Linked DNA regions of Homo sapiens. The protein of the gene in region 1 interacts with the protein of each later gene in a pairwise test. Each region holds a gene or a part of one and is shown in the gene's direction. Other genes may lie near its edges. The genes, in order: RBPMS, ARID5A, NAPRT and UBAP2.

The links.
Region 2: the proteins of RBPMS (region 1) and ARID5A interact in binary tests that used the Homo sapiens proteins (3 or more experiments, as listed by UniProt).
Region 3: the proteins of RBPMS (region 1) and NAPRT interact in binary tests that used the Homo sapiens proteins (3 or more experiments, as listed by UniProt).
Region 4: the proteins of RBPMS (region 1) and UBAP2 interact in binary tests that used the Homo sapiens proteins (3 or more experiments, as listed by UniProt).

The regions. Positions count from the first base shown.
Region 1 is NC_000008.11:30,379,837-30,387,549, forward strand, and holds the start of RBPMS (RNA-binding protein with multiple splicing), read left to right. Parts: upstream 1-4,704; 5' UTR 4,705-5,256; coding exon 5,257-5,322; exon of another isoform or gene 5,323-5,565; intron 5,566-7,713.
Region 2 is NC_000002.12:96,546,739-96,553,140, forward strand, and holds the end of ARID5A (AT-rich interactive domain-containing protein 5A), read left to right. Parts: intron 1-663; coding exon 664-779; intron 780-2,582; coding exon 2,583-2,721; intron 2,722-3,014; coding exon 3,015-3,067; intron 3,068-3,287; coding exon of another isoform or gene 3,288-3,449; coding exon 3,450-3,547; intron 3,548-3,835; coding exon 3,836-3,995; intron 3,996-4,360; coding exon 4,361-5,575; 3' UTR 5,576-5,896; downstream 5,897-6,402. UniProt on the Homo sapiens protein: DNA-binding protein that may regulate transcription and act as a repressor by binding to AT-rich stretches in the promoter region of target genes.
Region 3 is NC_000008.11:143,575,312-143,583,094, reverse strand, and holds the start of NAPRT (nicotinate phosphoribosyltransferase), read left to right. Parts: upstream 1-4,764; 5' UTR 4,765-4,776; coding exon 4,777-5,002; intron 5,003-5,151; coding exon 5,152-5,279; intron 5,280-5,355; coding exon 5,356-5,438; intron 5,439-5,695; coding exon 5,696-5,826; intron 5,827-5,917; coding exon 5,918-6,033; intron 6,034-6,252; coding exon 6,253-6,449; intron 6,450-6,522; coding exon 6,523-6,663; intron 6,664-6,932; coding exon 6,933-7,017; intron 7,018-7,392; coding exon 7,393-7,473; intron 7,474-7,569; coding exon 7,570-7,672; intron 7,673-7,749; coding exon 7,750-7,783. Other genes in the region: EEF1D (elongation factor 1-delta), read left to right, coding at 1,767-1,866, 1,941-2,041, 2,368-2,589, 2,889-3,083, 3,265-3,303. UniProt on the Homo sapiens protein: Catalyzes the first step in the biosynthesis of NAD from nicotinic acid, the ATP-dependent synthesis of beta-nicotinate D-ribonucleotide from nicotinate and 5-phospho-D-ribose 1-phosphate.
Region 4 is NC_000009.12:34,045,881-34,053,020, reverse strand, and holds the start of UBAP2 (ubiquitin-associated protein 2), read left to right. Parts: upstream 1-4,133; 5' UTR 4,134-4,196; intron 4,197-7,140. UniProt on the Homo sapiens protein: Recruits the ubiquitination machinery to RNA polymerase II for polyubiquitination, removal and degradation, when the transcription-coupled nucleotide excision repair (TC-NER) machinery fails to resolve DNA damage. May promote the degradation of ANXA2.

The DNA.
Region 1 (7,713 bases):
CTTTTGCCACAATGATAAATTAATAAAAAAATCAGGGGAAGATGGAGAGGAGCTGGAGGTGAGCAGGCACGAGGTAAGGGAGAGAGAGGTGTCAAGGATGACAAAAACCAATAAAATACAGCCCCTCTGGCCTCAATAACTTCTTTGGCTCAGCCGAAGGGTTAATAGACAATCACAACACACATGGTAGATACTGCAGCTTTCTGCTGCAAAGCTAACATAGGTACAAAGCCCATGCCATGCAAATCGCCTCAAAATAGACCTTTAATGTCTGCAGTTCCCAAAGGCAAACATTTAAGACATAATTATAGGTTTGGATTTCTTAAGGCAAGCCTCGAAATGAACACTGCCAGAGAAACAGCAGTGAGTAGTAAAAAACTACAGGTGTATACAATATTACCCTTTCAAGGTAACCTCGAAGGTCAGGCAATACAGTAGGTAGAGTGTTAGGCTGGGGAGAAAGCGGACTTTTCTGGTCTTCAGCACAACTATTACAGGATTTAAAATCCCTTGGTTACAGCGAAATTCCGTCTCAAAAAAAAAATCCCTTTGTGGTCTTATAATTCTCAGGATGCCTGAGAACTATTGCTACTGAGGAGATATTACTTTGGAATCTTTCTTTAAAGTCATAAACAAGCTGTAATTATCATTTATACCCTGATTGAAGGTACATTTTCCTCCCCCACACAAATTCAAACTCTTTGCCTTCAATCACAAAGTTTTATAAATAGCAAAAGTCTGTTTACAGATTTTCCTTGAGTTTTATTGGTAATACATTATTGCTCTTTCAAATAACTCTAAACTACTCTTCATGAAAAGGATAAAAAGCAGGAAATCTCCCTTTTCTTGACATATTATCCCAACCCCATATGTTTTTCTGAAAACACCCTGAATGTCACTCTCACCACTGACTATATAGTATAGCCATCCCTGCATCAGTGTCGATTTTATTGTCTGATATGTCAAATTCAATGGTGTGATTTTTTTTTTTTTTTGAGATGGAGTCTCCCTGTCGCCCAGGCTGGAGTACAGTGGTGTGATCTGGTTCACAGCAATCTCTGCCTCCCGGGTTCAAGCGATTCTCCTGCCTCAGCCTCCCGAGTAGCTGGGACTACAGGCACCCACCACCACGCCTGGCTAATTTTTGTATTTTCAAAAATGGGGTTTCACCATGCCAGGCTGGTCTCAAACTCCTGACCTCAGGTGATCTGCCCGCCTTGGCCTCCCAAAGTGCTAGGATTACAGGCATGAGGCACTGTGCCCGGCCTCAATGGTGGGATTTTATCTTTTACTGTTTGAAACCTTATCAGTTGTTCCATTCTGCACAAGGTCTCTATCTAGGGTCCCCCCTGCAAAATCATGACTAAAGACCACTGCCAGGCCGGTGGCTCATGCCTGTAATCCCAGCATTTTGGGAGGCTGAGGTGGGTGGATCACCTGAGTTTGGGAGTTCAATACCAACCAGCCTGGCCAACATGAGGAAACCCTGTCTCTACTAAAAATACAAAAACATTAGCCAGGTGTGGTTGTGTGCACCTGTAGTCCCAGCTACTGGGGAAGCTGAGGCAGGAGAATTGCTTGAACAGTTCTCGCCTGGGTGAGACATTTGCTTAAACAATGTCACCTGGGCCACAGAGCGAGACTCTCAGAAAACAAAAAACAAAACAAAAAAAAACACTGCCAAGACCCTGCCTAATGCCATTGCTGTGACTATCTGTTCTAAGACATCTCCACTGATTTAGTCCTTCCTGCTGGATCTTGGAAAAATCCAGTAATAACATTCAGGCCTGAGAATCAGTAACCCATCAGACTTAAAATGCTCATTTATTAAAAAATAACTGAGCGCCTCCTATGTGTTGGGCACTGTCTAGATGCTGGGAATACAACAGTGAATAAGCCAGACAAGGATCCTCTCCTGGAACTTATTTTTTTTTGTGACAGAGTTTCACTCTTGTTGCCCAAGCTGGAGTGCAATGGTGCAATCTCGGCTAACTGCAACCTCTGCCTCCCGGGTTCAAGCAATTCTCCTGCCTCAGCCTCCCAAGTAGCTGCTATTATAGGCGTGCGCCACCACACCCAGCTAATTTTTTGTATTTTTAGTAGAAACGGTGTTTCACCATGTTAGCCAGGCTGGTCTTGAACTCCTGACATCAGGTGTTGGGCTCACCTCGGCCTCCCAAAGTGCTGGGATTACAGGCATGAGCCACCGTGCCCCGCCTGGAACTTATTTTTGTTTCTTATCCCAGAGATTTTTGACTTTTAACAATGGACAAAGTCCTGGCTTGGCTTAAAGACAAAGAAATCAGATTCTTTATTTGGAATTAAGCCATGCTTCCCTGGGTGGGGATAGGAGAGGTTCTCCGGGCATCCTGATATCACACAACATAGTTCACCTGCTCCTAAGTGAGGTCTGAGTGGAACTATTGACTACATTGTCATTTTTGTTGGGCCCATGCCGGGATCCAAGAAGACCATGCCCTTCTGTGGAGTATGCTCCATGACAGGCAAGAATGGCCAAAGACACAGTGCTAGCATCATGGGCCACCACGGGGTCCTAAGACCACCACTCAGCTATTATTGCTCGGGAAGACATTGCCCCCTCGTGGTTCCTCATGTAATTGAGGGAAGCTGGCAGTGCAAAGAGCTGCCAGTTAAGGCAATCAATACATCCAAACACGTGCAAAGTTTCCACATTCACTGTAGCCTTATCTCTTCTGAATGTCTTGGGTTGCAGTTTCAAGAGTTGGTTTATTTTCATCCAGGATACATGTTTGTTCCCCTTAGAGAGAAATCACATTATGACAGCAATTAAAAAAACATGTTTTCCTTATGGAAATCTTCCTGTTTCAAAATCTCCAAACCCCCAAGATAAATCCAATATGTAAATCCAAGTATCACTACTGTTTTTCTCCTCATAATGCCCTTAAAGCAAATATTTTCCTTGCTTTCTATAATCGGAAAGAGGATTCTGAGAGTATCTTGGCTCCATACCACTTTATTTTTTTGTCTTTTCTTTTTTTCCCCTCTGTGGAGAACAGAGTCTCACTATGTTGCCCAGGCAGGTCTTGAACTCCTGGGCTCAAGCAATCCTCTTTCCTCTATCTCCTTAAGTGCTGAGATTCCAAGTGTGAGCCACCATACCACTTTAAACTCCCTAAAGGGAGGGTCCTTATCTGCAACTCCCACAGCCACCCCCGCCCTATCCCCAGCAGCACTTAAACCAAGTATAAAGAATGTCTGGTGGGGGTGGGGAGAAACAGTTAAGCAAATACTGTAGTTGGAAACTGTTACCGGTGCAAGACAGGAGCAGCAGGCTGGGATGGAGAATTCCTGGGAGGAAGAAGTGGGGCAGAACCCACTGATATATGGAGTTCCACATTTATACCTTTGTAGCAGTCAAATCTAAGAGTTTAACACGGTGGCTCCACGTTGTAATCCCATCAGTTTGGGAGGCCAAAAGCAGGAGGATCACTTGAGGCCAGGAGCTCGAGCTCAGCCTGAGCAACAAAGTGAGACCCTCATTTTTCTAAAAAAAAAAAAAACCAAAAAACCATAAGCTTAAATGATCGAGTATTGGAAACGCTTTCTAAGGCCCTGGAAAAATAGAAGTTTTCTTAATAATAATGTTAGCTTCCATGTATTGTAAACCTAAACGAAGCAAGAATAAATGCTGGGTGCTGTATATAGCTCTATCAACCTATAATCACCTCGAAAACTCGAGGAGACACATTCAGCTGCTCCCATTTCACGGATGAGGAAACAAGTACGCAATCCTGAAGCTGGTGCAAAGCCCAGGCCCCCTTTCTTTTTCAAGCGTGCTTCCAGCCTCTGAAGTTCCTCCGTACGGACCCCCAGCTCTGCCTGCAATAAGGAATATTCACTTTGCCAACAAATATTTATTGAGTGCCTGCTATATACCCCTTAGCCCGTTTAAATAGCCGTGGGATTAAAAAGATAAATAGGGCAGGATTTTTTTTTTTCTTCCAGGAAGGAGCTTTCTGAAGGGTGAGGGAGAGGCCAGGTAAACAATCCCAGAACAGTCTGGTGAGAGTTGGGAGAGGAGTCGGGGGGCCGCGGGACGCTCAGGAAGCGAAGCGGGGAAGGCTCCGGGCGCGTCGCAGGACCCGCGCTGGAGATGGGTTTGAAGCCCTGTCCTGAAAAAGCCGGCCCGGAGTGGGCTGTCCCCGGTGTCCCTCGAGTTCTCATGCTGTCATTCAAGCAGCAGAGGAAGAACCGGGTCTGGCTCGGGAAGGGTGGGCTTAGGGCCAGGGGTGCAAATCCCTCGGTAAAAGCCGGCAAACTAAAAGTCGCACACATCCCAGGTCCCGGTCCAGGCCCCGGCGGGGCAGGGTCCCCGAAGTCCCGGGGCGCGCAGACGCCGGGGCCCCCGGGGGCCAAGGGAACGGCGGGACCCGACCTCCCTGCCCTCGGCCTCCCGGGCCCTCGCCCTCCGACCAGCCGCTGAGTCGGGGGCTGGGGTCGCCGCTTCCGCCCGCGGCCCGCTGCCCCTCCCCGGCGCGCGCCATCCGGCCGCCGGCCCCTCCTCCCGCGGGGGGCTCCGTCCCGCGCCCCGTCCCTCCGGGCTGCAGCCGGCAGCCCACGTCCAGGGAGGGCGGAGGGAGGAGGAGAGGCGCGGAGAGGAGGGAGGGGAGAGGGGAGGGAGGAAGGCGAGAGAAAGGGAGCTGCTTCCATCCCGGACTTCCCAGAGCCTGCCTGGAGCGCGTACTCAGCGGCTCTCGGGTCCCAGCGTCCCAGCCGCGGCCCGCGCTCCTCCGCCCCGCTCCTCCTCCTCCTCTTCCTCCTCCTCCTCCTCTCTAGGCACCCCCGTCCCCTCCTTCCAGCGGCTGCAGCCCCCAGCCCCAACTCTCCGCGCTTACTCCTGGGACGCGCGTCCTCGCCCCATCCTTTGCTTCCTTCCTTCCTTCCTTCTTCCTTCCTCCCCTGGCTCCCGCCCTCCCTCTCCAGGTCGCCCTCCCGGGGCCCGATTGTCTCGGTGCCCCGCTCCCGGCCCGCGCCCTGCCCCGTCTCTCCCTTGCACTTCCTGAGTCGCCCGCCGCCGCCGTCGCAGACTCGCCGCGGGAGCCCCAGCCCAACCCGAGCCCGACAGCCACTGCCCCGGCTCCAGCTCCAGCCCCACAGCCCGCGGCGCCCGCCCGAGGGAGCCCCGGCGCCCGGGGAAGGCTCCAGTGGGCTAGCGCGCCCTCGCCCAGCCCCGCGCCCCAGCCCTGCCCGGCCCGGCGAGGAAGGACCGGGAAGATGAACAACGGCGGCAAAGCCGAGAAGGAGAACACCCCGAGCGAGGCCAACCTTCAGGAGGAGGAGGTACTGGGCGGCTCGGTGTGGTGGCGGGGGCGACGCGGGACCCAGTGCGGGCGGCCGGCGGGGCGCGGGCCCGGGGCGCGGCGGTGGAAGAAGGTTCAGGCATGGCCCGTGCCCCGGACGCAGCCCCACAGTGTGGCCCGGGGAGGGTGGATCTCGGGAGCGTGTGTTTTTGTGTCCACGCGCGTCTGCGGGCCCCAAATTGCGTAACTCCAAGGACTTTTCGGAGACTTTTGTAAGTATAATGCTCAGCTTTGTTTGCCCGGGATTTATAAGTGGAACCGAGAGCTGACTCCTGGGTGACCTCAGATAATCGGGACTCGGAGGGTCAGGACTTAGGGCCGGGGCTGGAAATTGTGTATGGATTCAGGGTCGGGGGGGGAGCAGTTTAAGGAAGAAACTCGGGGGAAAGTTCTCGTTAAAAGATACCTCTATTCCCTGCCCCCTCCCTTTCCGTGTTAAAAGTTCTTGGTGAAATATCTTTCTAGCCGAGGTTTTTTGGATTAATAGATAACTCATCAGCCACATTCTTCTCTGCTGAGTCAAAGACCCCGAGCCTGGGCGGTGAACGCTTGTGATTTTAGGGGCCGTGCAGCTGAGGGGAGCAGAGTAAGAGGGTTAAAAACGCAGCAATTCACCAAATGCTCATCGAGGGTATTTTCATAGGACTTTGACTTCTGAGCATGCATTTTAGGTGGTGCGTCCGTAATCATGATGAAAGTTTTGTGACTGCGGAGCGTTCCTTCGGTGGAAACAAAATTGAGTAGATGTGGTCAGAAGGGGAGTCGGACTCAGGAACAAACGTTTCAGAATTCAGTAGGATATTTGTGGTATCCTACCAAATGACTCTTTTTGCAGGTACGTTATCTGGAGTCCAAGAAATTATTTCTGGCGTACTTCTTAACATCCCACACAGTTGAGTTCTTAAACATTCTAGAGGAACTTGAGAGTGTGTGTAGATGCAGGAAAGTGCACGTCTAAATATGACCCGAAAAGATTCACACAGGTATTGGATCCTGATATAGGTGAACACAGAAGGTAAACGGATTCTAAAGCGTTAGAATGTTGAGATCATTGTTGAGACACTATGTTGTGTGCAAACTTCAATTCTGATAGTGAAACCAAAATTGCAGAGGAATTCATTAATACATACAACTTCTCTGCACATTGTCCACTTGGAAAATGGTAACTATTTAGATGGAGAAGGTAGAGGAGCGAGACTATGCCAAACAATGCAAAATAAATAGGAGATTTTACTCGTCACCCAGTTGTATGGTAGTGAAAACCTAAATGAATTGCAGTCAGCCAAAAATTGCTTTTTCACCCGAGGACATTTTCTATTTTATTATAAAAGACTATTTGAAGAGTTGTTTACTTGCATGTTTTCTAATTACAATTGTAGGAATGCTACTGGCATTTCTTTTTTCAAAGCGATGGAGAGTTGAATGGTGTGTTCTGATTTTTTTTCTTGAACTTTACTGGCTGCTTTGCTATTTATTTTCCCTACCACTTAAAAAAATTTAAAAATAATGACAAGTGTGCTTTTTTAGGAATTACCATATTTAACTAATTCACTTACCATATCAAGATAATCATCGCTTCAGAAATCTTTCTGTTTCAGCTAGATGTGCAATCTGTTTGCTTCTCAGGGTTAGAATATTATATGAAACCATCTTTCTTTATTCACCCAGTTGAGAAAACTTTTTTTTTTCCTTTTGGTAGGTAGCAAAAGAGGTTCAATGTCCTAAAAATCATACCCACATTAAAATTAAGTATAGAAAAGTCACATTTTTCTGCTTGACCCCTCTTAACAGCTGCCAGGACCAAGGGATTGCCTGCCCTGTTCCTGGACGCTCCTCCGTCCTTGTGAGGTTGTGTATAATAATCGCTGTATAATCGCGGGCCATTGCAGTACAGTTGCTGCCTCTTACTTGTCCTGTTATCTGACAGCGTTCCTTTTCAGGTAGGAATGGCATGTGGCTCTAGAAAGTATCGGTCTTTTTAGCAAAACACTTGTTATGTAAAAAGTAAGGGGACACGTAGGAAGATTTCAGAACCCAAGTTGTCCAAGAGAGATGTCGTGTACAAAACAGTTAAGACCGTGAAGAGAGGGGGGTTTATAATGTCAGAAATTGAGGAAAAGAAACTAAGGTGGCCTGAATGATCCAGGTAATTTTGCCTTAATTTCCTATTTTTGGTTTATATTTTGTTCTTGAAAAACTCTTAACCTCTTTTTTGTTTTTTTCTTTCTAACCCTGAAAGCCACAGGTAAAATAAATAGAGTATTAGGTGAGTGCCATTAATGTGCCCGGCATTACACAAAACCACTGCACTGACCCTTTCCCTGCCCACCCATTGTATCAGCAACTTGCTCTTAAGCACATTTAAAAACCT
Region 2 (6,402 bases), on another chromosome or scaffold:
TATTAGGGCAGTTAGAACTCTGCAGATGCTCAGGGAAAGGTCAGATATTCCTGAATATTCCCAGAGGAACTACTACCCAGGGACCCCTGTGTTGCTTTGGGGCCACAGCCATGGGATCCTTTAGCTCTCCAGTGAGACTAAGCTGCTTCTCAACTCTGTGTCTGAGCATGGGGCAGATTTTGGAGACAGGATTTCCCCAAGCACCACAGCCCAACCCCGGCCTCCTGTGACTTGACCTCAAGGTGGTTTTGCGTTTCCTTCAAAGATGTGGGGAGATAGTTGGAGCAGAGGAAAGAAAAGGGACAGGTGTGGAGCGGATGCAGCGGGTTGTCGGGGAGCGGGGAGGAGGGCCTGTGTGTGTGTGTGCATGTAGCCTATGTGCAGCCAGGGACACACCCCTTCCCCCTGGCCAATTCTTTTTTTTTTTTTAATAATAGAGACGGGGTCTCACTACGTTGCCCAGACAGGTCTTGAACTCCTGACCTCAGGTCATCGCCTGCCTGGGCCTCCCAAAGTGCTGGGATCACAGGAGTGAGCCCCTGCACTGGCGCCCTCTGGCAACTCCAATTGGGAGTAGGGAGAGTGCTCCTGTTCCTCCCTGCTTGCATCTCATATGCTCTCTCCCCACCCCTTCCTCCTTACTCCTTCCCTCTCTCCTTGCAGCAGCCCCTGTCAAAGGGAACAGGAAGCAGTCCACGGAGGGTGACGCCCTAGACCCACCTGCATCCCCCAAACCTGCTGGCAAGCAGAACGGAATCCAGAACCCCATCTCGCTGGAGGTGAGTTGACTCCCTCTGCTGACTCCCTGGGCACTCTTCCCTGCCACCCTCACCTGTGCTCCGCCTCCAGGTGAACCTGGACACTCCCCAAGCTCTCAGGAGGGAGATATGTTCCTACCCTGGCCCTGCCCAGCAGCCAGGGGACTTACTTGTCATCTGTGGCAGAGAGTTTCAATCTTGGTTTTTGTAGCAGAACCCTTTTTTGAAATGAAGATGACCTACCACCCTGATCCATTAAACAGACAAAAGCTCCAGCCCATGATGTAAAACCACATTCACATCCATTCATTCAGATGCATAACATGGGCGTATAAAGTCACTCGGTGAGACCAGCAAGACTGTTTCGATGAGCACAGAATCTGAAGGGGGAGCTGCAGGCAGCTTTTTCGGAGCACAGTCGGCCCCGGCTTTCATTCATTTTGGCCATTTGCTTTGGTGGCACAGTCTGGAAAAATATCCTGATTCATGCAGAAAAGTGGTTGCAAATGGTAGTTGTCTTTAGCAGCTTGCCAGGAATTCAGAATAGAGGCCTGGAGGAGCAGATTGACTTGAGCAGTTATGAGAGAGCCTTCCTTCTGAGGTCTGCACAGACCAGCCCCAGGGCCCCAGCATGTTATGATTTCATGGGTGATATGTGAGTTCCTATGTTGTTTCTTCTTAGAGGTCTTTAATACCTTAAAAACACTGAGCTATTACAGAAGCTATTTACAACTAACAAAAAAAGTAAAAACACTGAAATAAACTTGAATCAATTATTATTTTTTTTTTTAGACAGAGTCTCACTGTTACCCAGGCTGGAGTGCAGTGGCACAATCTTGGCTCACTGCAACCTCCAGCTCCTGGGTTCAAATGATTCTTCTGCCTCAGCCTCCCGAGTAGCTGGGATTACAGGCATGCACTACCAGGCCTGGCTAATTTTTGTATTTTTAGTAGAGATGGGATTTCCCCATGTTGGCCAGGCTGGTCTCAAACTCCTGACCTCAAGTGATCTCTCTGCCCACCTCGGCCTCCCAAAGTGCTGGGATTACAGGAGTGAGCCACCGTGCCCAGCTGGATCAAATATTTTTGGAACACATGGCTGTCTGCGCTGTCCTAGTCCAGATGGTTTATGTCCTGGAAGCTGTCTGTTCTCTGAGCAGGGTATGGGCCCTAGGCTCTCTGCCCCGAGCCACTCGCTGGATAAACGGCATCAGCAGAGATTGCCCCTCTGGGACCCGCAACCAAAAGTCCTGTGCCCCTGACAGCAGTGCGCAATTGAAGCCCAGAGCTTCACCTCCCTGTGCTCAGCACGGCAGGCTGGGGCCACACAGAGGCTCGGGGAACATGGGCCTCACAGAGTAACCCCAGGGCACCAGAAAGCACCAAGCACCTTTGTTCCTTCAGCTTTTCCCTCTGCGGTTATGGGGGAGTCCCAGGGACACTGAGCCTGCCCTCCTGGAGTTCCTAGTCTGGCGGAGGAGCTGACACAAATAGGACAAATCAAGAACAAGACAGAGAAGTGACCCTGGCCTGGAGAAGGCTGGGGACTGCTCTCGTGGCAGCCTCTGGAGCCAGCTGCTCTGGGGTACCCAGCCTCCGGGGAGGTCCTGGACTCTAGCTCCTGTCCTGGGGCGCTGAGAGCTGACACCTGTGTCTGCCGAACCCAGGAACAGTCACTCCCTCCCAGAACAGTGGCTAGGTGTTCTCTGGGAAACTGGGGTTGGGGTAGGTACCTTATTCCTCCTGCAGCCAGTGGTTTCTGCACATCCCCAGCAGCCAGCCACCAACTGGGGCCCATCCCAATGCCTCCTGTTCTCTCCCCAGGACTCCCCCGAGGCAGGCGGGGAGCGGGAGGAGGAGCAGGAGCGGGAGGAGGAGCAGGCCTTCCTGGTCAGCCTCTACAAGTTCATGAAGGAGCGACACACGCCCATCGAGAGGGTGCCCCATCTCGGCTTCAAGCAGAGTGCGTCCCTGGGGTGCAGGCAGGGAGGGGGGCCCAGCAGGGGACCCCGCCCAGGCAGGGCATCGGGCAGGCACTCCCACTCTGGGTGACCCAGGTTGCAGATAGAAAGGAGGCCTCCCTCCAGGCTGCCACTGGGCCAGGGGTGCACAGGGCACAGCCTGCCCGTCTATTGCAGTGGCCCTGGCTGGGTGTGTGCTGGTCTGTGCCTGGCCTGTCAGGGCACCAGGAAGGGGTGGCATGCTGTCCCCACCTCCCACAGAGACTGACGGCCAGCCTGCTCTTCTCTCCCCCAGTTAACCTGTGGAAGATCTACAAAGCAGTGGAGAAGCTGGGGGCCTATGAGCTGGTAAGGAAGGCACCTCCCAGTCCTTGCCAAACTGCATATCCCTGGGGTGAGCCTGCAGCGCTGTCCTTGCCTCTGGACAGAGGAAGAGCCAGGATCCCCAGTCCTACCCCTGCGTCCCTGCCTCCCTGCCTTCCCCGCTGGTACTCTGCTGCTCAAAGCAGCTTTTCAGCCTTCCCCATCTGTTCTGCCCGCCCCGTGTTGGGAAAACTGCTTGGGCCAGCAGTCCATGGCCCTAGGAGAGAGAATCGGCTGGCCGCTGCTGGAGCCGCAGAGCAGCTGCCAAACTGCAGTCCTTCGAGTCCCTGCGAGGGCGGCCGGAGCTGCAAGGACCCCGCCGCCAGGGGGCGCCCGCCGGCCGCGCCCTCACGAGGTGCCCTTGCAGGTGACCGGGCGCCGCCTCTGGAAGAACGTGTACGACGAGCTGGGGGGCAGCCCAGGCAGCACCAGCGCGGCCACGTGCACGCGCCGCCACTACGAGAGGTACGGCGGGGCGGGCCCGGGTGCTGGACGCCGCCTACCCTGCGGGGCTTTGGCCGACCTTGCCGGGAGGGCCGGGTGGACTCTGCCCGGAGCGGGCAGGGTATGCGCCGTCCTCAGAGCTGCGGGAGCCCAGGCTGGCTGGGCGCACTCACTGAGGGAGCTGAAGCTTTGGGACCAGGAGAGGGCCTTCCTCGGCGCCGGCGGGGAAGGGGGCTCAGAGGAGGCTACAGAGGCCCAGGGAGGGGATGGGCGCCGGCCTCCTGGGGGACATGCGTGGTTCCTCACCAGGCTGGTCCTGCCATACGTGCGGCACCTGAAGGGGGAGGATGACAAGCCGCTGCCCACCTCCAAGCCCAGGAAACAGTACAAGATGGCTAAGGAGAACAGGGGGGATGATGGGGCCACCGAGAGGCCGAAGAAGGCCAAGGAGGAGCGGCGCATGGACCAGGTAGGCCTGCGGCTGGCTGGGGCCACCCTGTCCCTTGCCTCTTGTAGCCCCCTACCCCACAACTCCCTGTGGCCGCGGAGCTGTCTGCTCAGAATACACAGAACCTGCACCCAGGGCGGGACTTGCAAGGTTCCAGGTTCTCCACAGATGGTTGTGCAAGTGGACTCTGAACTCCAGCCTGCGCCCACCCACCAGGCACCTGAGGCTGTGTCCACTCAGAGGACAGGGCACCTTTGGAAAATTCTGTACAGAGGACTGCAGGGGCTGGCGGGGGACCTGGGCAGGCCTGAAAGTGCCACCTCTTGCTCCTCAGGTCAGGATGTGGGGCTGAGGCAGTCCTGAGGCAAGACTTTCTCTCATTCCAGATGATGCCAGGAAAGACCAAAGCAGATGCTGCTGACCCAGCACCACTTCCCAGCCAGGAGCCCCCCAGGAACAGCACAGAACAGCAGGGCCTGGCCTCTGGGTCTTCTGTGTCCTTTGTGGGTGCCAGCGGCTGTCCTGAGGCCTACAAGCGGCTCCTATCCAGCTTCTACTGCAAGGGGACACACGGCATCATGTCACCACTGGCCAAAAAGAAGCTCCTGGCCCAGGTGAGCAAGGTGGAGGCCTTGCAGTGCCAGGAGGAGGGCTGCCGCCATGGGGCAGAGCCCCAGGCGTCCCCAGCTGTTCACCTCCCAGAGAGTCCCCAGAGCCCCAAAGGGCTGACTGAGAACTCCAGGCACCGGCTGACCCCTCAGGAGGGATTGCAGGCCCCAGGTGGCAGCCTCAGAGAGGAGGCGCAGGCAGGCCCCTGCCCGGCAGCCCCCATCTTCAAGGGCTGCTTCTACACCCACCCCACCGAGGTGCTGAAGCCTGTCAGCCAGCACCCCAGGGACTTCTTCTCTAGACTTAAAGATGGGGTGCTATTGGGGCCTCCTGGCAAAGAGGGGCTGTCAGTGAAAGAGCCCCAGCTGGTGTGGGGCGGAGACGCTAACCGCCCTTCTGCGTTCCATAAAGGTGGCTCCAGAAAGGGCATCCTCTACCCCAAGCCCAAAGCCTGCTGGGTGTCCCCCATGGCCAAGGTCCCAGCCGAGAGCCCCACGCTCCCGCCCACCTTCCCCAGTAGCCCAGGCCTGGGCAGCAAGCGCAGCCTGGAGGAAGAGGGTGCTGCCCACAGTGGGAAGAGACTGCGGGCCGTGTCTCCCTTTCTTAAGGAGGCGGATGCCAAGAAGTGTGGGGCCAAACCTGCAGGGTCCGGCCTGGTCTCCTGCCTTCTGGGCCCAGCCCTGGGGCCTGTGCCCCCAGAGGCCTACAGGGGCACCATGCTGCACTGCCCGCTGAACTTCACTGGCACCCCGGGCCCCTTGAAGGGCCAGGCTGCACTCCCCTTCAGCCCCCTGGTCATCCCGGCCTTCCCGGCCCACTTCCTGGCCACCGCAGGCCCCTCGCCCATGGCCGCTGGCCTGATGCACTTCCCCCCAACGTCCTTCGACAGTGCCCTCCGCCACAGACTTTGCCCGGCCTCATCTGCCTGGCACGCACCACCAGTCACAACCTATGCAGCGCCCCACTTCTTCCACCTCAACACCAAGCTGTAGGCCAGCCCATGGTGTTGTGTACACTGTGGAGTCGACAGGGGCCTACAACAGGCAGGTACTGCTGCCAGGGGGCTCTGAACTAGTGCCTGCTACCCAGGACACCCGGGCCATGCCCCTGGCTGGGCAGCCTGGCACAAGTGAAGAAGAAGGCAGTGGGAAAACTGGGTTTATCTCAAGGCAGCAGCCTGAGCCCAGGAGCAGAGGACCCAGTTGTTATAAGGCGCTGGGAGAGGATGGGCAGCTCCCACTGCCCCAGAGCGGAGCTCGAAGCACCCAGGTTGCCCACGGAAAATCCAATAAAAAGACACCAGTGTGAATCCACGTAGCCCTGAGGTGTGTGTGGTATGGGCCTTTGCAACGGCAGGCAAGGCGGGGGTGAGCTTGTGGGTGGGGCTGCCATTAGGGGGCCAAGGAGGTGGACCTGAACGCCACTACCCCACTGAAGAGCGGGCCCAAAGCAAACCCCAGCCTCTGCCGTTTAGGCAGCCTCTAACATCTGTCCTTGCCTTCAGTCCAGTTTCCTAGTTGAGCTTCAGGGAATGCTTGCTGCCTTCCTCATTGTGGAGATGGGGATTGGAGGTCCTGGGAGGGTCGGTGACTTGCCCAGGTTCCCCTGGCAGGAGGGGCAGGGGAGGGCTGCACAGGCTGTGTGACTCCCGTGCTCTGAGCGGGACCCCAGGCTGTTACCAGTGCCCCTGGGGGGTTGGGGGTGTGACCAGGAAGCCTGAGTTGGTCTGCGTTGGTGGTGGATGTAGATTTCTGGGGCCTGCAGCTGAGCCCTCTCTGCAGCCCCACCCCACTTGCCTGAACCGCATGGACAGACCAGA
Region 3 (7,783 bases), about 110 Mb from region 1:
AGTTACCTCTGCAAAGGCCCTGTCTCCAAATAAGGTCACATCCTAAGATACCGGGGGATAAGACTCCAGCATGTGGATTTGGAAGGACATTATTCAGCCCATGGCAGGGGCCCAGTCTCATCTTGGATTTGGGGTGGGAGTGCTCAGCAGACACTGGGGTTTCAGAACTGCAGGGTTTCTGGTAGCGTGGTGCTGGCACAGGGTTACAGGCATGGGTCTGGCTCTGAAGTGTTTGCCTTTGGCATCCCCCAAGTCCCTGAGGGGCTCTCTGAGGCCCGCTGTGACTGCACTGGGTGACCTGAGCCTGCCCGTTGAAGCTGTGCTCAGGGATTCTGATGCCTGGCATCCCTAGTCCCCCCTGAGTCAGCATCAAAGGAGGGGACTCTCCCTGTGTCCTGAGTGCTGTGGGCTCTGGCCTAGTGGCCCGCAGAGCCAGGCAGTGGTGAGACGGCCCCCGCTGCTCATCATGCAGCCCGGGGCCAGTGCTGACTTAGTGCCTCTTCCAGAGGGGACCTTTTCCCTGTCCTTGGGCCTGCTGTGTGGGGTGCATGAGGCCTCAGGTGCCACTCACAGACTCCGGCCTCCTCAGGACCCAGCCCCACTCCCGCGGGAGGTCTGCTGTGATTCTCCATGCCCCCTGGCGCCCCAAAGCCTGGCCCTCCCGTGCTCCGGCTTCTGCCCCCGAGTTTGTCAGTTTCTGCCGGTGCCTCCCGTACCCCCACCACCATTCACGCGCCTCTGCCAGCCTGGCCTTTCCCTGTCCATTTCCTCCTGGCCTTGCTGCCAGGTGGGCCTCCTGGGCCAGTTTGGCTCGGCCTTGCCCATGATCTGCGGGGCTTAGCTCCCACACCCTCCAGATACATAAACAAGCATTCCCCACAGCATGGTCCCAAGGACGGTGGCAGGAGGGCCCCAGGGATGGGTTTGCACGTTGGGCAAAGGCCTGAGTATGTCCGCACCTGCTGCAAGGAGCGGCTTTGCCTGCCCGGCTACTCCAGGCCCCTCCCCACAGAGAGGGAGCCCCGGGGAGCTGCCGAGATGGGGTTTGCTGAGAGCTCCATGCAGCCAGGTGCACCCTGTCCTTCGAGCCATCCTGTTGGAGGGTGGGCAGGCTAAATGGCCCATGCGTGCAGGTAGATGCTTAAGGACTGGCTAGTGTTAAGGGCCAGGAGGCTGGGATCCTGTCTGGGCCCCGAGGTATCAGTCTCAGCTATGGCAGAGTATGAGGTGGGCTTGGGGCCCTGGATCACCTAGAGACTGGCTTGCTGAGTGAGATGGCAGGCGTGAGGCCCAGGGAGACAAAGCTTTGGGTGGCTGCTGTCCACACAGGTGGGCTCCTTCCTTCTTCCCCCACTGGGCCCTCAGCTGCTCCCGCCTCCCATTTCCAGTGCTGCCTGGTCCCCTGAGGCGTGTCCCAGGTTGTCCCTAGGACTGTGAGTCCTTCAGCACCTCCCACCCAGCCTCTGAGCCTGGCTGCTCAGCAGGATTCCGCCGGGCAGCAGCAGCCATGGCCCAGCTCCCCACAGCCTCCGTCTCTGGGGCACCAAGAGCCTCCTGTCCTGGACTTTGCCTGGCTGAGAATTTCACTGTGGTCTGTGGTGGCCGCCACCTCTGAGGTCATAAGTTTGAGCTGGGCATCAGCGGGGGGCACCTCCTGCTCTCCCGAGCTGTAGTTTTCCTTCCGTGAGTTCCTGCAGTCCTGAGCATGGCAGGGGGACCCTAGGAGCAGGCTGGGCACTGAGCCCTCCCCTCCTCCTGCCTTGCAGAGCTCAGGCCCCGGGGCCTCCAGCGGCACCAGCGGAGACCACGGTGAGCTCGTCGTCCGGATTGCCAGTCTGGAAGTGGAGAACCAGAGTCTGCGTGGCGGTGAGGCCCCGGGCCAGTGGGTTGGGGCTGTCCCTGGCCCCTGCCATCTAACCGTGCTCCCCTTGCCCCCCCAGTGGTACAGGAGCTGCAGCAGGCCATCTCCAAGCTGGAGGCCCGGCTGAACGTGCTGGAGAAGAGCTCGCCTGGCCACCGGGCCACGGCCCCACAGACCCAGGTGAATGCTCTCCCCACGCCTGACACTGCAGGGGACCACGTGGCCCTGCTGGCTTCCACGTCGCCCTGTGGGCTGGCCCCAGCAGCAGTGATGAGCTGGCAGCCAGGATACTGGAGTCCTCAGGTCCCCAGGAAGGTTTACAGTTAGCCCTGGGCAGGTGGAGGCAGTTTTTGTCTTTCCTGGGGCCCTGCATGTACACAGCTGCGGTACACAGGGGCTGCCCTTCCTCCAGTCAAAGGAGGGAGGAGGGCCAGGAGGTGGCCAGGCAGCTCTGGGCCCTGGTTGGGGCGTCTCAGCCGTGCCTCCTGTCCCTTCCCCTGTGGCAGCACGTATCTCCCATGCGCCAAGTGGAGCCCCCAGCCAAGAAGCCAGCCACACCAGCAGAGGATGACGAGGATGATGACATTGACCTGTTTGGCAGTGACAATGAGGAGGAGGACAAGGAGGCGGCACAGCTGCGGGAGGAGCGGCTACGGCAGTACGCGGAGAAGAAGGCCAAGAAGCCTGCACTGGTGGCCAAGTCCTCCATCCTGCTGGATGTCAAGCCTGTGAGTGGGCGGGGTGGGGCTTCAGGGGGCCAGGCACTGCCCTGGTGCCCGCCTAGCCGGCTCAGCCTGTGACCCTCCCCCTGCCCTCTGGGTTCTGGGGAGACTTTAAAGCCGAGTTTAGAAGTCTTGGGATAAACACAAACTTGGAGGCAGGAAGGTGTGAATTTGGATTGTTTTCTGTGGGCCCTTTAAGGAAACAGAATTGTGGACACACAGTGGTTGAGGGTAGGGTGCATGCAGGTACTTCCTGGGTGTTCTGAGGGTGGCTGACCCCAGCTTTTCCTCCCCTTTCCCCACAGTGGGATGATGAGACGGACATGGCCCAGCTGGAGGCCTGTGTGCGCTCTATCCAGCTGGACGGGCTGGTCTGGGGGGCTTCCAAGCTGGTGCCCGTGGGCTACGGTATCCGGAAGCTACAGATTCAGTGTGTGGTGGAGGACGACAAGGTGGGGACAGACTTGCTGGAGGAGGAGATCACCAAGTTTGAGGAGCACGTGAGTGAGCCGGCCGGGGAGAGGAGGGGAGAGGAGACTGGGGACCCTGGCCCATACCCTGCACTCCACCCCACGGCAGTGGGGAGCGAGTCCCAGAGTGAACCCCACCTCAGAGGAGGCTCCTGGCTCCGAGTGGGCTGTAGGGGAACAGCCCTGACCGTCACCCTCCGCCTCTCCTCAGGTGCAGAGTGTCGATATCGCAGCTTTCAACAAGATCTGAAGCCTGAGTGTGTGTACGTGCGCGCGTGCGTGAGGCCCTGCCACGATTAAAGACTGAGACCGGCCCTCTGGCTCCGTCCTGGTCATTTCCTGCTCGTACCTGGCCTGTCTCCCTCCCTGTCTCAGCCCCATCTCTGCCCTGCTGTTCCCACACAGTCATCCTGGCTGCTGCCACCCTCTGTGGCCATGTCACCTTGCCCCCAGCAGACCTCCGCCTGTCCCTCCATCTCCTGGCCACTCCCTCCCAAAGCTCTGGCCCTCCCTCTTCTTTCCATTGCAAAAGCAAGTCCAGTTCAGGGGGTTTAAAAAGCCAGAAACAGAAACTGTTAGGTCACTATCTGGAGAGGCCACCACCCCACCACTCTGCCTCCTGTTGGCATTGTCCCCATGGGAGCAAGCGTGCAAGCCTGGAATTGTCCAGGAAAGAAGTCCCAGTAGCACCCGGCCCTGCTGCCATGCCCTTTGTCATGTGCTGTCCCGGCCCTCCCCTCACCTCATTCATTCCTGGAATCCCTGCCCCTTGCTCCAGGGACTGTGCCCCTCCCATGATGTTCTGGGGTGGCCAGAACGTGGCTGCCTGGGCTCTGTGGAGCTGTGCCTCAGCATCCTGACAGCCGTATGTGGTCAGCATGGGTGGCCACACTCCCTCCCCTGGACCACCCGTGTTTGCATTGGGGTGAAAGAGGATGGGGTGTAATTACTTGATTACTTCTGGTCAGACTCTGTCCTCGGGGCCCCAAGCCACAGGGGAATGGATTCTCCCTGGGTAGTGGCCCCTGACTTTGCCCTCAAACCTTTAGAAAGTTTCCTGTGGGGCTTGGACTGCAGGACCCCATAAAAGCCACCACTGAGGGACACTGGGCCTTCATAGCCACAAAAGGTCTTTTGGTGCCAGCCGACAGTGGGCATGCGCCCCCCTGCCCCACGCCGCCCTTTCCTGGGTGCCAAGCTCTTTCCAAGCGACATTTGCGTCCATCTGGGCTGCCTCGTCCTAGCCTGGCTGCTCAAGCTCTAACTAAGGCAGCCTCTGGCCTCCCTCCCCAGGCCCAGGGCAGGAGCTGGCTGCTGGCCAGCGGTTGTCTTCTGGGTCGGTGGGGGTGGAGTCTGGCTGGTCTGTCCTCCACCCTTTCCGCCGCCTGGCAAGTCCTGAGCTGCACCTCATTGCCCGGCCAAAGGGCAGAGACACGAGCGACTGGGGGCACCTCTGGTGACCAAGACCGGGCTGCGCTCCAAAGAGGCCGTTGGGCCTGGAGTGGGGTTGGGGGGTCCGAGAGGAGTTGGGTGACATCCCCCACCCCATCCCGGGTCCAGCTGTTTCAGCCCCTCTCGGCGCGCCGATACTATTAGCCCCACCCGTCCTCCATCGAGTCCCGTGCCGCTCCCAAACGGCACGATAAGCCCCACAGGGAGTGCGCCATAGGCCGGGGCGCGTCACGGGGTCGGGGCGGGGCGGAGTCCGGACGTCGGGAGCAGGATGGCGGCGGAGCAGGACCCCGAGGCGCGCGCGGCGGCGCGGCCGCTGCTCACTGACCTCTACCAGGCCACCATGGCGTTGGGCTATTGGCGCGCGGGCCGGGCGCGGGACGCCGCCGAGTTCGAGCTCTTCTTCCGCCGCTGCCCGTTCGGCGGCGCCTTCGCCTTGGCCGCCGGCTTGCGCGACTGTGTGCGCTTCCTGCGCGCCTTCCGCCTGCGGGACGCCGGTAGTCCCCCGTCCGCGCGACGAGCCCCCCACGCCCGGCAGAAACCCCCACCTATGGCCGGTGGAAGTCCTTGTCCCCCCGTGGAACCCCCCATGTCCCACGACCGGTCTGTCCCCGCGCTGGTCTCAGCGCAGTTACCTCGTTTCCAGACGTGCAGTTCCTGGCCTCGGTGCTGCCCCCAGACACGGATCCTGCGTTCTTCGAGCACCTTCGGGCCCTCGACTGCTCCGAGGTGACGGTGCGAGCCCTGCCCGAGGGCTCCCTCGCCTTCCCCGGAGTGAGTAGGGGTAAGCGGGCGGCGCGGCGGCCACGGGGTGCTGGGCCGAGCGCGGAGCTGACTTCTCTCCCCGCAGGTGCCGCTCCTGCAGGTGTCCGGGCCGCTCCTGGTGGTGCAGCTGCTGGAGACACCGCTGCTCTGCCTGGTCAGCTACGCCAGGTGGGCTGCGGGCCACTGGCAGGGAGCGTGGGCATGGGATGGGCCCCCAGCGCCGGGGCTCCGTGCTGGACTGTGGCGGCGGGGCTGGCTGCCCAGGGGTCCCAGGACTGGCCTCCCGCCCCCACTCTTCAGGGTGTAAGGAGGGGCTGGGTGAGGGTGGAGCTCCCAGGTTGGAAGTTCCAGGCCCCAGGTAACCGCCGTCTTGGGTGGCCTAGTGATCCTCACCCTGGGACCCCCTGACTCTTGGCTCCCCACAGCCTGGTGGCCACCAACGCAGCGCGGCTTCGCTTGATCGCAGGGCCAGAGAAGCGGCTGCTAGAGATGGGCCTGAGGCGGGCTCAGGGCCCCGATGGGGGCCTGACAGCCTCCACCTACAGCTACCTGGGCGGTGAGTGTCTGGTGCGGGGCAAGGCAAGGGCCGGGAAGGAGGAGCCCCATCTTGGCCCGAGGTCCCCCAATCCCACCGCCTTCCTCCCCAGGCTTCGACAGCAGCAGCAACGTGCTAGCGGGCCAGCTGCGAGGTGTGCCGGTGGCCGGGACCCTGGCCCACTCCTTCGTCACTTCCTTTTCAGGCAGCGAGGTGCCCCCTGACCCGGTCAGTCCCTCCTCTAAACCCTGCTGTCTCCAGGCGACAGGCCCCAAGCCAGCCCTTGCCCTGGCGAGAGGTGTGCCACCCAGGCAGGTCACCCCAGTGCTGTCCCAGGAAGCTGGCACGGGCTGCATTACCTTTGCTCTCAAACTAGGGTGTCCCTGGCTGCTCCCAGGCCTCATCCTGCATTCCTGGCCCCCATTCTTCACCGACTCTGTTCCACAGATGTTGGCGCCAGCAGCTGGTGAGGGCCCTGGGGTGGACCTGGCGGCCAAAGCCCAGGTGTGGCTGGAGCAGGTGTGTGCCCACCTGGGGCTGGGGGTGCAGGAGCCGCATCCAGGCGAGCGGGCAGCCTTTGTGGCCTATGCCTTGGCTTTTCCCCGGGCCTTCCAGGGCCTCCTGGACACCTACAGCGTGTGGAGGTGAGCCCGGGCACTTTAGGGGTGGGCTCAGCAGAACCTCAGCAGCCTCTGACTCCCTTATCTATTTCTGCAGGAGTGGTCTCCCCAACTTCCTAGCAGTCGCCCTGGCCCTGGGAGAGCTGGGCTACCGGGCAGTGGGCGTGAGGCTGGACAGTGGTGACCTGCTACAGCAGGCTCAGGAGATCCGCAAGGTCTTCCGAGCTGCTGCAGCCCAGTGAGTTTCCCGGGGAGGAGGTGTGCCTGGTGGGAGATCCCCGGGGTTTGGGAATGGGCAGGGAAGGACAGTGAGGTACTCTGCTGAAGTTTCAGCGGTGATACTGCAGGCCGTGGCAGGGAAGTAAGTGGTGGGGCTCCCTAGGAGCTCCCAAGCAGAAGGTGAGCACAGGTGTCCTTGACTGAGGCGGGGCGGGGAGCAGGGGGACACCAGGGTGAATCAGGAAGACCCGAGGGGTGGCCCCCACCCTTTCTCCACCCACGCGGCAGGTTCCAGGTGCCCTGGCTGGAGTCAGTCCTCATCGTAGTCAGCAACAACATTGACGAGGAGGCGCTGGCCCGACTGGCCCAGGAGGTGGGGTGGATGAGTGGGTAGGCGGAGGGTGGCTGGGGGGCTCTGGGGGCCCCTGCAGGTTCTGGCTGGGCTCATTGCCACCTCCTTCCCCGCCCAGGGCACTGCCACCCCCTTCCCCACCCAGGGCACTGCCACCTCCTTCCCCCACCCAGGGCACTGCCACCCCCTTCCCCACCCAGGGCACTGCCACCCCCTTCACCCAGGGCAGTGCCACCTCCTTCCCCACCTAGGGCACTGGCACCTCCTTCCCCACCCAGGGCACTGCCACCCCCTTCCCCACCCAGGGCAGTGCCACCTCCTTCCCCACCCAGGGCAGTGCCACCCCCTTCCCCACCCAGGGCAGCTGGGCTCACGGCCACCCCCTTCCCCACCCAGGGCAGTGAGGTGAATGTCATTGGCATTGGCACCAGTGTGGTCACCTGCCCCCAACAGCCTTCCCTGGGTGGCGTCTATAAGGTAGGGACAGTGTCGGGGGCCCAGGTGGGGGCAGGTCTGAGGGATGGTGCTGGGTGGGGGATAAGGACCAGCCAGCTCAACGCCCTCTTCCTGCAGCTGGTGGCCGTGGGGGGCCAGCCACGAATGAAGCTGACCGAGGACCCCGAGAAGCAGACGTTGCCTGGGAGCAAGGCTGCTTTCCGGCTCCTGGGCTCTGACGGTGAGGCCCTCCCATCCCCCCTGCTGTCCACCTTCAAAGCACCAGGGCCCCCGCTTATTCTTGCCCCGTCCACACAGGGTCTCCACTCATGGACATGCTGCAGTTAGCAGA
Region 4 (7,140 bases), on another chromosome or scaffold:
GAGGTTTTAGGGCTTTGATGTTCTTATTTTCTCTGATCCTAGGTTCTTGGTAGGACTTCTTGCTTAATAAATGATAATGTAATAAAAGTAACCAGCACAGTGTCCCTGACACAGAAAAGGCAGATGTTTTTGAAAATGAATTTAACAAGAAATTGAGGCCTGGAGAAGTGACACAGCTTGTACAGGGTCACAGAGCTAACACGTGGTCTCTGGTCTTCCTTTTCATAAAGCTAATCTTTTTTTTTCCTTTTTTTTGAGACAGAATTTTGCTCTTGTTGCTCAGGCTGGAGTGCAATGGTACGATCTCAGCTCACTGCAACCTCCGCCTCCCAGGTTCAAGCAATTCTCCTGCCTCAGCCTCCCGAGTAGCTAGGATTACAGGCATACACTACCATGCCAGGCTAATTTTGGGTTTTTAGTAGAGACAGGCCTTCTCCATGTTGGTCAGGCTGGTCTTGAACTCCCGACTTCAAGTGATCCACCTGCCTCGGCCTCACAAAGTGCTGGGATTACGGATGTGAGCCACTGCGCCCGACCTCATAAAGTTAATCTTCTTTTTTTTTTTTTGAGAGGAATCTTGCTCTGTTGCCAGGCTGGAGTGCACTGGCTCGATCTTGGCTCACTGCAACCTCCGACTCCCGGGTTCAGGTGATTCCCCTGCCTCAGCCTCTGGAGTAGCTGGGACTACAGGTGCGCACCACAGGTGCACCACCACACCTAGCTAGTTTTTGTATTTTTAGTAGAGACGGGGTTTCACCATGTTGGCCAGGATGGTCTCAATCTCTTGACCTTGTGATCCGCCTACCTTGGCCTCCCAAAGTGCTTGGCCACCGCGCTGGGCCAAGTTAATCTTATAATTACGTAAGTTATATACCAGTGCCTTCTCCAAGTAAAAAGCGAAAACGTTAGACTGCAGTCCCTTTGGGCCAGCAACCCCAATCACAAACCTCTTTCCCACCCCTCAGAGCCAGCCACTGTTATCAAGTTTGTATATTCCTTTCAGAATCCTTTTCTCCTGATCTGTCATTTTTTTTCTTTTTGAGGCGGACTTTTGCGCTTGTCACCCAGGCTGGAGGGCAATGGCATGATCTCAGCTTACTGCAACCTCCGCCTTCCAGGTTCAAGTGATTCTCCTGCCTCAGCCTCCCGGGTAGCTGGGATGACAGGCACCCGCCACCATGCCTGGCTAATTTTTGTATTTTTAGTAGAGACGGGGTTTCACCATGTTGGCCAGGCTGGTCTTGAACTCTGGACCTCAGGTGATCCGCCCGCCTTGGCCTCCCAAAGTGTTGGGATTACAGGCATGAGCCACCATGCCTGGCCTGATCTGTCCATTAAGTCTTTGACTCTCAAGGGTGGTTTTTATCTCTGATGCTCCCACACATTTCTATAAAGCAGCAGGGCAAACAGGAGGAAGACGAACAGACAAGACACAATCCTAGCTCATTGTCAAAAGAGGTGAGATAAGATACACCTACACATGAATGGTGATGATGATAAGTTCTGTTTTTTTTTTGTTTTTTTTTTTTTGAGATGGAGTCTCACTCTGCCTCCCAGGCTGGAGTGCAGTGGCACAATTTTGGATCACGACAACCTCTGCCTCCTGGGTTCAAGTGATTCTCCTGCCTCAGCTTCCCAAGTAGCTGGGATTACAGGCGCCCGCCACCACGCCCGGCTAATTTTTTGTATTTTTTTAGTAAAGACAGGGTTTCACCATGTTGGCCAGGCTGGTCACAAACTCCTGACCTCAGGTGATCCACCCACCTTGGCCTCCCAAAGTGCTGGGATTACATGCGTGAGCCATCACGCCCGGCCCAGTTCTGTTTGTTAAAGGCACAGTTTAAGCATTCTTTGTTTTTTTTTTTGTTTGAGACAGAGTCTTGCTCTGTCGAACAGCCTGGAGTGCAGTGGTGCTATCTTGGCTCACTGCAACCTCCACCTCCTGTGTTCAAGTGATTCTCCTACCTCAGCCTCCTGAGTAGCTGGGATTACAGGCGTGTGCCACCACGCCAGGCTATTTTTTTTTTTTTTTTTTGAGACGGAGTCTTGCTCTGTCGCTCAGGCTGGAGTGCAGTGGCGCGATCTCGACCCACTGCAAACTCCGCACGCCATTCTCCTGCCTCAGCCTCCCGAGTAGCTGGGACTACAGGCGCCCGCCACCACGCCCGGCTAATTTTTTTGTATTTTTAGTAGAGACTGGGTTTCACCGTGTTAGCCAGGATGGTCTCGATCTCCTGACCTCGTGATCGGCCCGCCTTGGCCTCCCAAAGTGTTGGGATTACAGGCGTGAGCCACCGCGCCCGGACATTTTTTTGTATTTTTAACAGAGACGGGGTTTCACCGTGTTGGTCAGGCTGGTCTCAAACTCCGTATCTTGTGATCCGCCCTCCTCCGGCTCCCAAAGTGCTGAGATTACAGGTGTGAGCCACCACGCCCGGCAGCATTCTTTAATTCAGATGAATAACAAAGGCTTTATTTGAACTAGATAGGGCTGTTTAAGATGTCAATTGTTTTACTTAATAACTAGCAAATTAGTAATTAGCATAGTGCCCTGTACAAAGTTCAGTATAAGCTAATTTCCCCTTTCTACCTTACTTAGACCTTTTGGGCCCGATGGGTAGAGTGTGAAAATGATTACTGATACTTACTGAGGGTTTATTATGTGTCAAGCAGGCATTTTACATAATCTCATTTAATTTTCACAAGCCGGTGAAGTGTTATTACAGAGGAAAGCTCCAATTGAGATAAGGCATGCCGGGACTGCAAAGTCCTTGTATGTAACTAGCTTGGGATAAAACAGGCCAGTAAGTAGACCTTGAGAGCTTGTTTAGAGGACCTTGAGAGCTTGTTAACACGGGCGTGCAGCTACTCCTATATCCTTGACTTGTCCTCTTCTATGGGGGATGCTCCTCCTTTTCGACCGAATATGCAGCTTCGGGAGGGACGCACATGGAGAGGTGCGGGAGGAAGGGGCCACCCGCCTAGACAGCCAGATCAGCCGAATCAGCCCTGGCGATCTATGGGGTGACAAGATAGCCAGAACGCCCTCACATCCAAACAGGCCAGTAAATGGAAAATACTTTAAAACACCATGCTACAATTATAAACCATCATCTTATTTATTCGTAATTCTTGGAGTTGACAACAGGTCAGATCCTATTGAGAGGAGGTCATTAATTTTCTAAAGACAGAAAACCTGGGTCTCTTCGGTCAACAAACAACTCTAAGGTTCTTTTTTTAAATCCTTAAATAGGGAAAATCCTGGACTCAAGGAGTTGATTATATGATATAACAGAAATAAACGGCTGACTTGGAGTAGGCGTTCAGTAGATTCTAGTCTTTTCACCCAGAAGGGGCTTGGGAGGGCAAAAGTAAAACCGCACTGAAAAAGACTAAAAGTGGGCGCACCTTCCGCCTTGCCGAGGCTCTCGCTGCTAGCCGTTGGCGTTTTCCCGCGCAGGGGGCAGGGCGCAGAGCGAGCCCAGGAACGTGGGAGCGGAACCCCACCCCCCGCCAGGACTACACCTCCCAGCAGGCACCACGCTCCGCCACATGGCGGGCGGCATCCAATGGTATTAGTCCTTCAAGCCAGCTTAGTCCGCTTTCCGTCCCGGCCTTCCCTCGGCTCTAAGGTCTCTAGGGGGTTCGTCTAGAAGCCCGCTGGAGAAAGGCTGCGGTAGGGGTCGCCTTGGCTGTGCAGCATGTTGGGAGTCGTGGTCCCCTCGTGCAACATTTGGGAGGCCAGGCTTGCCCTGAGTGGTTGGACCACATCACGTGATGAGCACAGGGCGGCCACAGGGGAGTAACCTGTGGTGCTTTGTGAGGTCATCACGGCGCGACGACGAGCTGCAGTTGTGGGCACCTTGTATGCGGTGGGTAATACTCTCCTGATGACTCCGAGTACAATACATATTATCAAGTCTCCCTTATTTGTTCCTTTCTGTGGTCCCCACCTCCACGCGGTTGGCTTCGCGGGGTTGGGGTGGAGGTGGTGGCTGGAAGAGGCCGCGCGCCGCCTAGGCTGACTCTGAAGCCGCGCACGAGCGACGTGTTGTGGCTCCTCCTTCGCCCGTGACGCGAGGTCACGTGACGGGTTGGGCAGCCTGTGCCGCCGCCGCCGCTTTGTAAGAGGCACATTGGCAGGTAACGAGCGGCGGCGGCGGCAGCGGGTCTTGGGTCCTCCGAGAGCAGCAGCGGTAATTGCCATCCTCTCCCTCTCCTTCCCTCTTCCAGGGCCCTGAGCGCTGCAGCGTGTGCTTTCTAATTCTGGGTTCAGCTCGTCTGAAACCCCACCGCCTGCAGACTGCCCCGGCGCCCACCCGTGAGGACCGGGCCGAGCTTCACTCGCCAGGTCCACGGTCCCTCTACGTCCAGGCCCGGGCTCCCTCCTTCCTCTTCCCCTCACGTTGCCCTGTGCTTCTTCCTACTTTCCCCCGTCCAGGTCGGCTGGGCCCCACCCAGCCCCAGGGGTGCCTCCCCTCCCCCCTTTCGGGTTTCTGCCCTGGAGGGTGTGGTTTTCTCTCCCACCTCGGTGCCTGCCAGTAGACTGGAGCTTCCCCGCCACGCTGTCGGTCCCATCTCATCACCTTTCCGCTTTCACGCCCGTAGCTAGTCTTGGGACTGGCCCTGTTATAGCCCCAACTTATGCGCTCTCTAACCTTTCCTGGCTTACCCGGAGTCACAGTTCAGTTCTACTTCTTTTCAATTCTGTAGGGCATTGGTCTCAATTGGGACTCAGTTTTCCTCCACACCCGCCGTTCCTGTAGTCTGGTTATATCACAGTTCATTATTTAATGTAGGTTTTTGAGCGCTTTGTAAACGGCAAAGCTCTCTCTGTTAATAATACATACTCAAAATGTTATTCTTTCATTGGTGCATTACAACTCAGTTGTTTGCCTCTGAATCACTTTCCCACTCGGCTTTTCCACATTTTCCCCTGAGTTTTTAGTCTAATTAGTTGCCCACGCATCTCAACTGTCACCACTCTGGTCTCTAATGCTTGCTCGCTTTAGGGGTTGATCCCATCATTATTACTGTTATTTCCTGTTTGATGTAATCCAGTCATTTACTACCACTTCTATTGGATATTGTTTTTACCTCACATTCAAGGAAGGTATATGGTTTGCCAGTATTTAGGCTTATTGTCTTTCTACAGCACCAGTGTATCCTAACAGTTGAGAGATTTTAAAAAATTACTATTAATTTTAGAGATATGGTCTCCATATGTTGCCCAGGCTGGCCTCCAGCTCCTGGGTTTAAGCGATTCTTTCACCTCAGCCTCCTGAGTATCTGGGATTACAGTGTGCACCACGGTGCTCAGCTAGTTGAGGGTTTTTTCAGGTCTCCATAAGGTATCCAAAGATTATCTTTTATTTGAAGGGCATATAATTTCTTGGGTGAACCCAGTTCTTATATTCCTCTTCCGTTGTGACAGCACTTTTTTCAACAAGGGGTATGCGACTAGTTATTGCATTCCTCACTTTTCACTGTGAATTGTGTATCCGTTTTAGTGCCAGTTTGTGAAAGGTGGAAGGAAGTTGAACATGATACCTAAGCTCTCCCGTATCCTACATTGGTGTGTTCCCCTTTTACCTCAGGAAAGGGAATGTATTCCACTCCCTGGAGATGATAGTTTCCTTCAATACACTCACCTGTGGAGCCCCTTCGCTAGGGTTGTCCTTCCATTGCTTTGAAGGCTTCTCTTATCATTAGGCAGAAGTGATTAGTTTCCCAAACTGCCCTTTTGCTTGCTGCCAGCATACTCCTGATTTTCCTACTTATGGCTAGTTGATACGTGTGACGAGAGATTTTCCCACAGCGCTGATTTCCCCCATTTGCTTCCCTGTTGCCTCTCACCCTCAATAATTATGAAACCTTTCAGAGAAGGAAGGTTTTTGTTGTGATTGAAATATGCCCGAAAGTGGTGGCATGGGAGAGAATGAGGCCATGGGAAAGGGTTGTGGTAATTGCCTCTCTTGCCTGTTTCCTGCTGCTCTGGTTTCCTCTGTCCTCCCTTTAAATGTGGGCTGGATCAGCAGTAGTCACATGGAGTTGCCTTTAGAACTATATTGGAACAACAATAACACCTCTGCTTCCCTTTCCTGGTTACTAGTGCAGTCTATGTAGTGATCACCAGGAGTGTCTCTCTTAGTATTAGCCTGAGTGACTTTTATTGTATGGGGAGAAATGGTGTGATGGTGTGAGAACATGTAGACTAATAGGTTTATTTCAATATGTACTTGTATTGTGATGGGAACTGGTCCCGGTATCTACCCTCTTAAGTATAAAATATGTGTAGAAAGTACAAACCTTTCTTGAAGGTTTGGAGTGGTCTGAAGTGAAGCCTTCTTTTTTTTTTTTTTTTTTTTTTTTTTTTTGAGATGGAGTCTTGTTCTGTCGCCCAGGCTGGAGTGCAGTGGCCTGATCTCGGCTCACTGCAAGCTCCGCCTCCCGGGTTCACGCCATTCTCCTGGCTCAGCCTCCCGAGTAGCTGGCACTACAGGCACCCACCACCACGCCCGGCTAATTTTTTGTATTTTTCAGTAGAGATGGGGTTTCACTGTGTTAGCCGGGATGGTCTTGATCTCCTGACCCCGTGATCCGCCTGCCTCCCAAAGTGCTGGGATTGCAGGCGTGAGCCACCCCGCCCGGCATGAAGCCTTTACTTCTAAAATGTTAGCTTTGAATTGTTGATTTCCCAGTCCTCTTTTTTTTTTTTTTAAATGATGATTTATTGTTAAGATTTCCTTTGTTAATAAGACACTTTGTGGGGTTGGGGGGTGGGGGTGGTTAAGTATATTAGCAAGGGTTAATGCCTGCTCTAAAGAAGCAGTCTGCAGGCATTTACAGATTGTAAAGTTCTCTGCCCTTAAGCACATCTGTCTTTATTTTTCCTTGTGAGAAACCTGTATGTCAGCAAATACCCGTTCATTCTTAGTTGTTATTTTGAGTAAATGGAGCTCTTAGTTGTTATTTTGAGTAAATGGAGCGTTCTTAAAAGCTAAGTGTTATGGTACCCATGGTGTTGACTGGTAAGTTAGTAGATCTCTGATAGATTTTAGAAGCAGCCGTTTTTTCCAAAGAGTGGAGATACAACCTGAAGGAAGGCAAAGAGAGGGAGGACATGTAGGGAATATCACC